Linked DNA regions of Homo sapiens: region 1 is linked to region 2. The links come from fine-mapping of genetic effects on gene expression. A gene starts in region 2. The other region holds a variant in brackets. All regions are shown on one strand. Distances are between the middles of the regions. Region 1 overlaps HHAT (hedgehog acyltransferase). Region 2 holds the start of HHAT (hedgehog acyltransferase).

Region 1 (4,396 bases), 76 kb after region 2:
GGATGACCTGGTTCCTAGTCTATTCTATTCCCCATCTCTTCCTACTCTGAAGCTGGAGCAGTCATTTAACCTCTGAGCCTCAATCTCATCATTTGGAAAACAGAAGTAATAAATCCTCTTCCTTCCTCATGGGATTGTTCTGAGAGTCAAACGGGATAATCTATGTTAAGTGATTTTGTGAAAATTGTAGCATTTTGAAAGTTCAAGTATTTTTTGCTGTTTTTAGTCTACCTTCATTTTTCTCACTCTCATTAATGATGTGGGGCTAGCATTTTAAGCACGTATGTCAAAATCTGGACTTATGAGAGTATATCAGATAATCACTCCGTTTTAATGAAGATACTTCCCAGAATGATTAGGCAACCATTTAGGCAAGTGTGCTTAAAAACAGATTTACAGTAAAAATAAAAACAAGCTCATACCTAACCTTTTGGGGACCTGGCAAGTGTACAAACAGAATCTAATTCCATTTATCATTTATTTGGGGACAATTAGCATCAGTTATAGATGTTGGAGGTGAATAAATGTTCATTTGTTCTGCAAATTTTACAGTGATTTGAAAAACACTGAGGAAGGAGATCATGTGATTAGAAACTAGCTGGGTTTCCATGCTTTTGCACATGTGGTTCTCCTGATATGATTATCCTCTTTTCCCTTGGTGGCTGCTAAAGTCTTGTACAAGAAGTAGAAACTCTGTTCAGTGGTTGGTTTTTCTGTGTACAGCTTTAAGAGACCCTGATGGATCAAGTTAATTACTTTCTCCTTTGACCCAAGTTCTATTTCTCGTATGTATTTCCATAAATAGTTTTTCTCACTAAATGTATTTTTGGAAAACATGGAAAATGTAGAAAAATATAGAAATTAGAAAATACTTCATAATTTTACTCCCCGATATTAACATTTTATTGTATTTCCTTCTCATTTTTTGTTCCATGCATATTTTTGCACAGGTTATTTCTTGTTTCATGCTCTATTGTAATTGCATTTTTACACATCTACGTCCTGTATGAGAATTTAACATATTGAGGGCAGGGACTTTTTTTTTTTTTTTTTAAATATTTGTCTGTAAAGCTTATTAGACAAATGCTACTCAACTAAATGTAGAGCCAAACTGATAACAAAAGAGGAAAACGAAAAATACATTGAAGACAGAAATCCCATGGGACATTTTAAGCCCCTCTTTGTTATCTGAATTGTTGAAGAAGCTGTCAAAGTATCCACTGGATGTAGCTAATCTGCACCTTATGCCCTGGATGTATCTGATACATGCCTAACTGGGAAAACCTTCGTTATGTTGTGTCAGACCTAATGCTAGGTTAACATTAGAGATGTCCTTTTTCCTACTGCTCATTAACTGCTTGCTTTGATTACCAATGAGATTTACCTGGTGTTCATTGGTTCTCGACTGCCTTTTATGGCACAGCTGCTCTGCCTGAAGAAGAAATTGCCTTCCCAGAGCCCCCTGGGATTCTCAGATGACGGTGGCCCTGCTGGCCAGCACCTGCAGTGGGACTGGACGATGTCCCTGCTGGCCACTCAAAGGTTGTTCTCTCCTTTTGATTTTGTAGAGAAGGTGGTACAAGACAGAAAACGAGTACTACCTGCTGCAGTTCACGCTGACCGTTCGCTGCCT[G/C]TACTACACCAGCTTCAGCCTGGAGCTCTGCTGGCAGCAGCTGCCTGCTGCATCGACCTCCTACTCCTTTCCCTGGATGCTGGCCTATGTCTTTTATTATCCAGTCTTACACAATGGGCCCATCCTCAGCTTCTCGGAGTTCATCAAACAGGTAGAGCCCGCTGGGGATGGGATTGGGATTCTATAGCTTAAGCCTTTGTCGCTGTTGCTCTGGTCTTCTCTGACTCTTGAGTCGTTTTGTTCAGAGGTGCCCACAGATTTACAACACATACTATTAGTTCTCATGAGGTTTTTTGTAATAGATGAAATACATATGAGAAATGAGCCTTTAAAATAAAGTTTGACCCATCAGATATGTCAGCTCTAGGGGGTCCCACCTTGATTTTCAGTGAACTCTGGCAACCAGGATTAATGAGTAGGGCACAACAAGGAGTTTGGGAGTTGGTATCCACTGTGGCAAAGTCCCAAGGAAAGAAAAAAATTTGATTATGATGCTATTACTTGAAGGAATAGAAAAGGAAACTGTCTAAGCTGTTGCTTGGCAAATAGTATGTTTCCTTTTATATTCACAAGCTGCTTAAGAAATAGTCCTGCCATAGCCTGGGAGCTGTTCAGGGTGACCTAGGTGTGAAAACAGAGTGGAGTTGAAGTAAGTTCGAAGGCAGTGGTGTGTGTTCATGTCTGGATCCCCCTTTGTGCCCAGGCCCCCGCCTGCCTTCCTCGGACGGCATCCTTGTCTGAAATGCCATGTTAAGCTACCTCTGTTGTTCCCCCCTACTTCACTTTTCCCCCTTGTTTAGAACTTTCTTTTTTTTCTGCCTCCTCAACCTACCTCTAGTTTCATGGAACATAATTGCTAAGTTAATTCACCTAAGGAATTAGTAATTGAAAATGCCTAAAACAGTGTTCTCAAGGGATATTCTATCCCTCACCAACAAAACAATCCTCATAGAGGAGAAAATAACATGTACGTGCATACACAGACATGCATGCACACGCAGAACACATACCCACGCATACGCACACACCTGGAAGGGCAGGGCAAGCAGCAGTGTTGCACATTTCTGGGCAGCAACATGAAAGTTGCTCCCTGAAAAAGGAGGGTTCTTAGAAATCTTATTTTGTCCTCAAAGTTCCACTGAATTATGCATTGTATTCAAGAATATATTTTTGCATTATAACAATAACATAATGTTCTAAAATTTCCAGTGAAAGTATGTAACTTTTTATATCTCTAGAAATCTGTAAGTGAAATTGATATTCTAGACAGATATGTTTAGTCTATGGTTTCTCATACCTCGGTTTGGGATCGTTCTTTTGTCATGAAGGAATTTAAAATCTGCATTTGAAATTGTGTTTAAAATTATTGTGTAAAAGAGATGGTTTAATGATGGCAGCTGATCTTCTAACTCAATGATTTGCAAAGTGTGGTTCCTGGACCAGCAGCATCAGTATCGCCAGAGAGCTTGTTAGAAATACAAATTCTCAGGTCCTCTCCAACCTCCTGAATCACAGCCTCTAGGGATAAAGCCCAGGAAGGTGGTTTAACAGGCCCTCCAGGAGGAGGGTGGGAGTAAAGGTAAGGTGGGCACAGCATAGGGTGGGTTCCTCTCTTTTACAATCTCCTTACCTTTGTGAACTTTTGAATTATTCTCAGTTTGCCAGCCAATAACTTTTGGACCAAACATCCACACACAGACACCCCTCTCCTGAGGATGGCTGGTAATTTTCAGAGAAACATAAACTAAATCCATTAGAAGGAAACAGATTATTTTCCTAACTTCCTCCTGTATATAAGCTTTGCCTGTATGCTCTGTACTTTGTTATTATGCAAAATAATTGTTTCTGTTATTTCTCATCTCCTTTTTCTTCTTTTTTTTTTTGAGACAGAGTCTTACTCTGTCACCCAGGCTGGAGTGCAGTGGTGTAATCTCAGCTTACTGCAACCTCCACCTCCTGGGTTCAAGTGATTCCCGTGTCTGAGCCTCCTGAGTAGCTGGATTACAGGCATGCACCAGCAAGTCCAGCTAATTTTTTGTATTTTTAGTAGAGACCGGGTTTTGCTATGTTTCCCAGGCTTGTCTCTAACTCCTGAGGTCAGGCAATCTGCCCTCAGCCTCCCAAAGTGCTAGGATTACAGGCTTGAGCCTGGCCTCCCTTTTCAAATTGTGCCTTTTAGGGTCTAGTAAGAATATTAGAGGCCTCTAGCAGGGTCCTGTGTCACACAGAGGCACGCTTTAAGATTATCTTCCACCTAAATCCTTAGCCAAGGGTTCTCATTCTCTTGAGTCTCATTCTGGGGAAGTGAAGGGGCAGGTTGCTTCCTGTAGGGGCCAGGTATAGACACTCTGGGTTTTATCCATGTCTTTTCCTTCCCTCTCTCTCTCTTCTTTTTTAACCCCTTCTAAAACAATAGCAATTGCTGACAGCAGGGAACTTGAAAGGGCAAATTAAAACCTCTATGTTTGGGGGAGTATTCATAGAATAGTCATTCTAGAAAAGGATAAATGTTCAGTAAGATATAGGGCAAATTTAAAAAGCCAGGAGGTTTCTGCACTTGCTGAAGGTGGCTGTGGGGAACTTCCCTTCTGTGGGGAAGGGGGCTTTAAAGGGGCAGGGGGTTAAACCAAAAAGCTTATCTTGCAGTGAAAGGGTTCTTTCAGAGAAGCCAAAAAGGAAAAGGCTGGGAGGTGGAGAAAGAAAGCTAGTTGGAAGAACTAGTAAGTAAGATTTGCTCTGAATGAATGCTTGAATGAATGCATG
Region 2 (4,396 bases):
TCCTACTTTTATTTCCCTCCTCCTTTTTCTAGTGGGTTGTCTATAAATGTGTCTTGCTCATCTATAATTGATTTCTAATGTTTTCTTATTGATTGTATTAACTCTATATATAATTTTAAAATTAACACTTTGCAAATTTCTTGCAAATATCCCAGTCTATTGCTTATCTTTAAATTTTGGCTATTATGGCCAAGCATGGTGGCTCACACCTGTAATCCCAGCACTTTGGGAGGCTGAGGCAGGTGCATCACTTGAGGCCAGGAGTTCGAGACCAGCCTGGCCAACAAGGCAAAACCCTGTCTCTACTAAATAGCCAGGTGTGGTGGCTGGTGCTTGCCTGTAATCCCAGCCACTCAGGTGGCTAAGGCACAAGAATTGCTTGAATCTGCAGTGAGCTGAGATCATGCCACTGTGCTTAGCCTGGGTGACACAGTGAGACTGTCTCTAATACATACATATATATATATATATATATATATATATATATACACACACACATAAATTTTGGCTATTTTTATTTGATGTTTCTGATTGCCTGTGTTTAAATCTGCCTTTATCTCCTTTGTGTTCGCCGGTGAATTTAAAGTGCATATGTAGACAGGGGTTAAGTGTAAATCACACTGAACCTATATTAACAACAGCATCTTTTAGAAATAATATAGGAGCTGTTATCACATCCCTGTCCCTGAGTTTGACACTACCTGAGTTGAGTTCTTATTCTGCCACTCCCTCTGCCAAACCCTTGGATCTAGAGTTGACAGATAAAATACCCAGTTAAGTTTGATTTTCAGATACCCAGGATGTAAATTTGAATTTCAGATATACCATTTTTTTTTTTTTTTTTTGGTAGAGATGGAGTTTCATCATGTTGGCCAGGCTGGTCTCGAACTCCTGGATTCAAGTTATCTACTCACCTCGACCTCCCAAAGTGCTGGGATTACAAGCTTCCTGTAAGTACTTAAAAAAAATAAGTATATCCCAAATATTGCATGGGTCATAGTGATACTAAAAAGTTACATATTGTTCACCTGAAATTATTTACTTATTTTTTTGAGACAGAGTCCGGCTCAGTCACCCAGGTTGGAGTGCAGTGGTGCGATCTGAGCTCACTGCAACCTCTGCCGCCCGGGTTCAAGCGATTCTCGTGCCTCAGCCTCCCAAGTGGCTGGGATTACAGGTGCAGGCCACCACACCCGGCTAATTTTTGTATTTTTAGTAGAGACGGGGTCTCACCATGTTGGCCAGGCTGGTCTCAAACTCCTGGCCTCAAGTGATCCTCCTGCTACCGCTCCTAAAGTGCTGAGATTACAGGCGTGGGCCACCGCGCCCAGCCTGAAATTCAATTTTAATTGAGTATGCTGTATTTTTATTTGCTAAATCTGGCACTCCTATTTGGGGCTAGTTTACTAACACCTGCTTACTGAACACCATCCAGTACCAGGTTTTGGGGTGAGTGGGTTGGGGGGAAGCAGAAAGAAAAGATAGCTCCAGCTCTTGGAGAGTTCATACTCTGGTTTCCTGGAGAATTCTAAAATCATTAAAATAATCCTCTCGACCATTACAATGACTGCTAGATGAAATTTCTGAGAGCACAGCTTCCGAGTTTCCCTGCTGCCTAGGGCAGAGTTATCCACCTTCACCTTATCATAGAACCACCTGAGACGCCCCTGCCATGGACAGTCTGATGCTTTTGGTTTGGGGAGGGATCCAGAAGCCCGAGGTTTTAATGAGAGCCACGTGATTCTGCTGAGATAAGTCTGGAGAACTCTGGCAAGCCTGTCTCTTGGCTCAGGCTTGGAGGCCTCCGAGCAGCAACATCGTCCCAATTATACCCCGTTGGAGCATCTTCAGATCTTCCACTCTTTTCACAACGCAATCAAAATCTTCGTACCCATTTTGCAGTAGTGATCTCTGTAAGTTGCTTTACAATTCATAAAGTTTATTCTATTTGATCTTCACTCTAATTTACAAAGAAAAGCAGGGAAGTCTATTTCTGTTTTACAGAGGTGTACAGGGAGGCTCACAGGGGCTAAGTTCACACAGTAAGCCCTCGAAGCTGCCAGGGCTGCAAAGCCCACCCTCTTTCCACCGCACCGAACTACCTCCTTTCGCCTACAAAACGTAGGTGGGGACCACTGGTGTTGGAATGACGGCCCACCTCGAGTTTCAGGTGACTTCCACTCTGCAATTAACTTGCAGGCAGCCCCAGACCTGCAATGAACACACGGGTGGGGGAGAGATATGCACGCCAGGGTCAGTGGGAACCAACAGCCGAGGGGTGAGCGGGGCTAGGGGCCCCGGGCCGCCGGCGGGGCAAACGCGGTTCAGAAACGCAGGCCGCGCTCTGGCCCGCCCCCTGCAGCAGCACGGCCTGCTCGCCATCGCCCGGAGAGCGCCGCGGGTTCCCGAGTCCGGGCGCGGAGGGCGCGCGGGCACGGCGGCAGGGGCGTGCTCGGAGGACGCGCGCTGCGCTGCTCCTCCAAAGGGCAGCTCCGGGGGAAAGAGGGTGGCGTCCCGGGGAAGCCCGCAGCCGCCGCCGATGTCGCTGGGACTCGGAAGTGCCGAAAGAGGGGTGTTGGGAACTCGCGGCGCGCGTGAACGTTGCCGTCGCCGCCGCCCGGGACAGCCCGGAGGTTGGTAACTGGTGACCATAGGGGGTCCTGGGGAGGTTAGATGCTGAATTTTCTGCGTCAGTTTACTCTGTTAAAAAAAAAATGCACAAAACGCTTTCCGTTTCCTACCCAAGTTCCCGTGTGCGCGCCCGAGGGCGGGACAGAGGAAGTTCCCGGTCGGGCGAAGAAGACAAAAGCGGCGGGGGCCGCGCGCGCAGTGCGCCCGGGCAAAGGCGGGGATCTAGGCGCCGGGACAAGTCCGCGCACGGCCCTGCCCACGTCCTCTCTCCTTGGCTTCGTCCCCAGCTTCCGGAACTGCTGCGGGGAGTTGCGAACTCTGGTCCTCTTGGCAGTATCGGCGGTGCGCCTGCCTGCCTGCTGTGACTCCAGGGACTCTAAAGTTAGAGACTTCCTTTGCGTTCTATCTTCAGGACTCAGTTTTCTTCCTCTGTTCTGAGTCTAACCTTCAGGTGGCAGGTCTTTATGCGGAAAAACCCTCCCGCTAATCCTCACCAGAGGTACTTTACGGGTAGCATTGGTGTTAAGAAATGTGCTGCTACCTGTGTACATTGCTCTTGGATCAGGGTTGTAGGGCTAGGGCATTTGGCATCCTCAGAGGTTTGCATTACGTGGGAGTGAGACATTGCTTCTCTTTCTGTTTTTGTTGTTGTTTGTGTTTTTGAGGCGGAGTTTCGCTCTGGTCGCCCAGGCTGGAGTGCAATGGCACAATCTCAGCTCACTGCAACCTCAGCATCCCGGTTTCAAGCGATTCTCCAGCCTTGCCTCCTGAGTAGCTGGGATTACAGGCATGCGCCACCACGCCCACCTAATTTTGTATTTTTAGTAGAGACGAGGGTCTCACCGTGTTGGCCAGGCTGGTCTCGAATTCCTGACCTCGGGTGATCTGCCCACCTCGACCTCCCAAAGTGCTGGGATTACAGGCGTGAGCCACCGTGCCTGGCATCTCATTCATTCTCAGAGCTAAGGACCTATTTCAATGTGATTAAGTGCTATGGGAATGCAAGGAGAGGAGAGGGAAGGCTTCATTGAAGAGGCGGTAGTTCATTGAAGGAGACTTTGAGGAATGATTTTTTTCCCCTTCCATTCCTCATGTTCCATTTTCCCTGTGATTTTTCTCCCTCCTTTCTCGTTGCCAGTCAGTCCCTAATTGTGATTGTTTGATAAGGACAGCTCTGACCTGAGAGATTCAATTAATGTTAATTTAAGGAGACTGTGTGCTTATTAGGTGCTTTAGATACATTATTTCTAAACCTTACAGTAACTGGGAAAGATAAGTGTTGTTATCTCTTTTCACAGTAGGATAGAGAAAGCCTTGGAGGGGAGCCAAAGCCACAAACTAGTACATGTCAGGGCCGGGTTTTGGACTCCTCTTTTGGATCAACGCCTGTGCTTTATCTACTGTTTACTTTGCCCCCTCCTTGGAAGTAGGTTAGATGGATGAACTTAGGGTGAAAGTCAATTCTTTGGAGGGAGCAGCCGTTTTTGTGGGTGGCCAGATGTTGGTGGGAGCTCTGTAGGTAGCATCAGGAACTTGCGAGCATGGGCCTTACCTGCACCCCCTGCTTCCAGCTTAGGACCTGGCCCAGGGGGAATGTTCCCTAAAGCAGTGGTCCCCAACCTTTTTGGCACCAAGGACCGGTTTCATGGACAATAAGTTTTTCATGGACTGGGGGAAGGGGGATGGTGTTGGGATAATTCAAGCACGTTACATTTATTTTATTTATTTGTTTTGAGACAAGAGTCTCGCTGGGTCACCCAGGCTG

What was found.
Region 1: its variant is fine-mapped to the expression of HHAT in prefrontal cortex (BrainSeq, PIP 0.95).

The regions. Positions count from the first base shown.
Region 1 is chr1:210,402,896-210,407,291 of GRCh38, forward strand. HHAT (hedgehog acyltransferase) reads left to right here. Exons shown (of 12, transcript NM_018194.6): 6 at 1,569-1,784. Among named protein-coding and RNA genes, the nearest start is that of HHAT, 76 kb to the left of the region's middle. The variant G/C (reference allele first, on the strand shown) is at 1,634.
Region 2 is chr1:210,326,472-210,330,867 of GRCh38, forward strand. It overlaps HHAT (hedgehog acyltransferase), which reads left to right and starts at 2,431. Exons shown (of 12, transcript NM_018194.6): 1 at 2,431-2,633. RefSeq lists enhancers at 1,604-1,773, 2,648-3,007, 4,120-4,289 and a silencer at 2,238-2,487.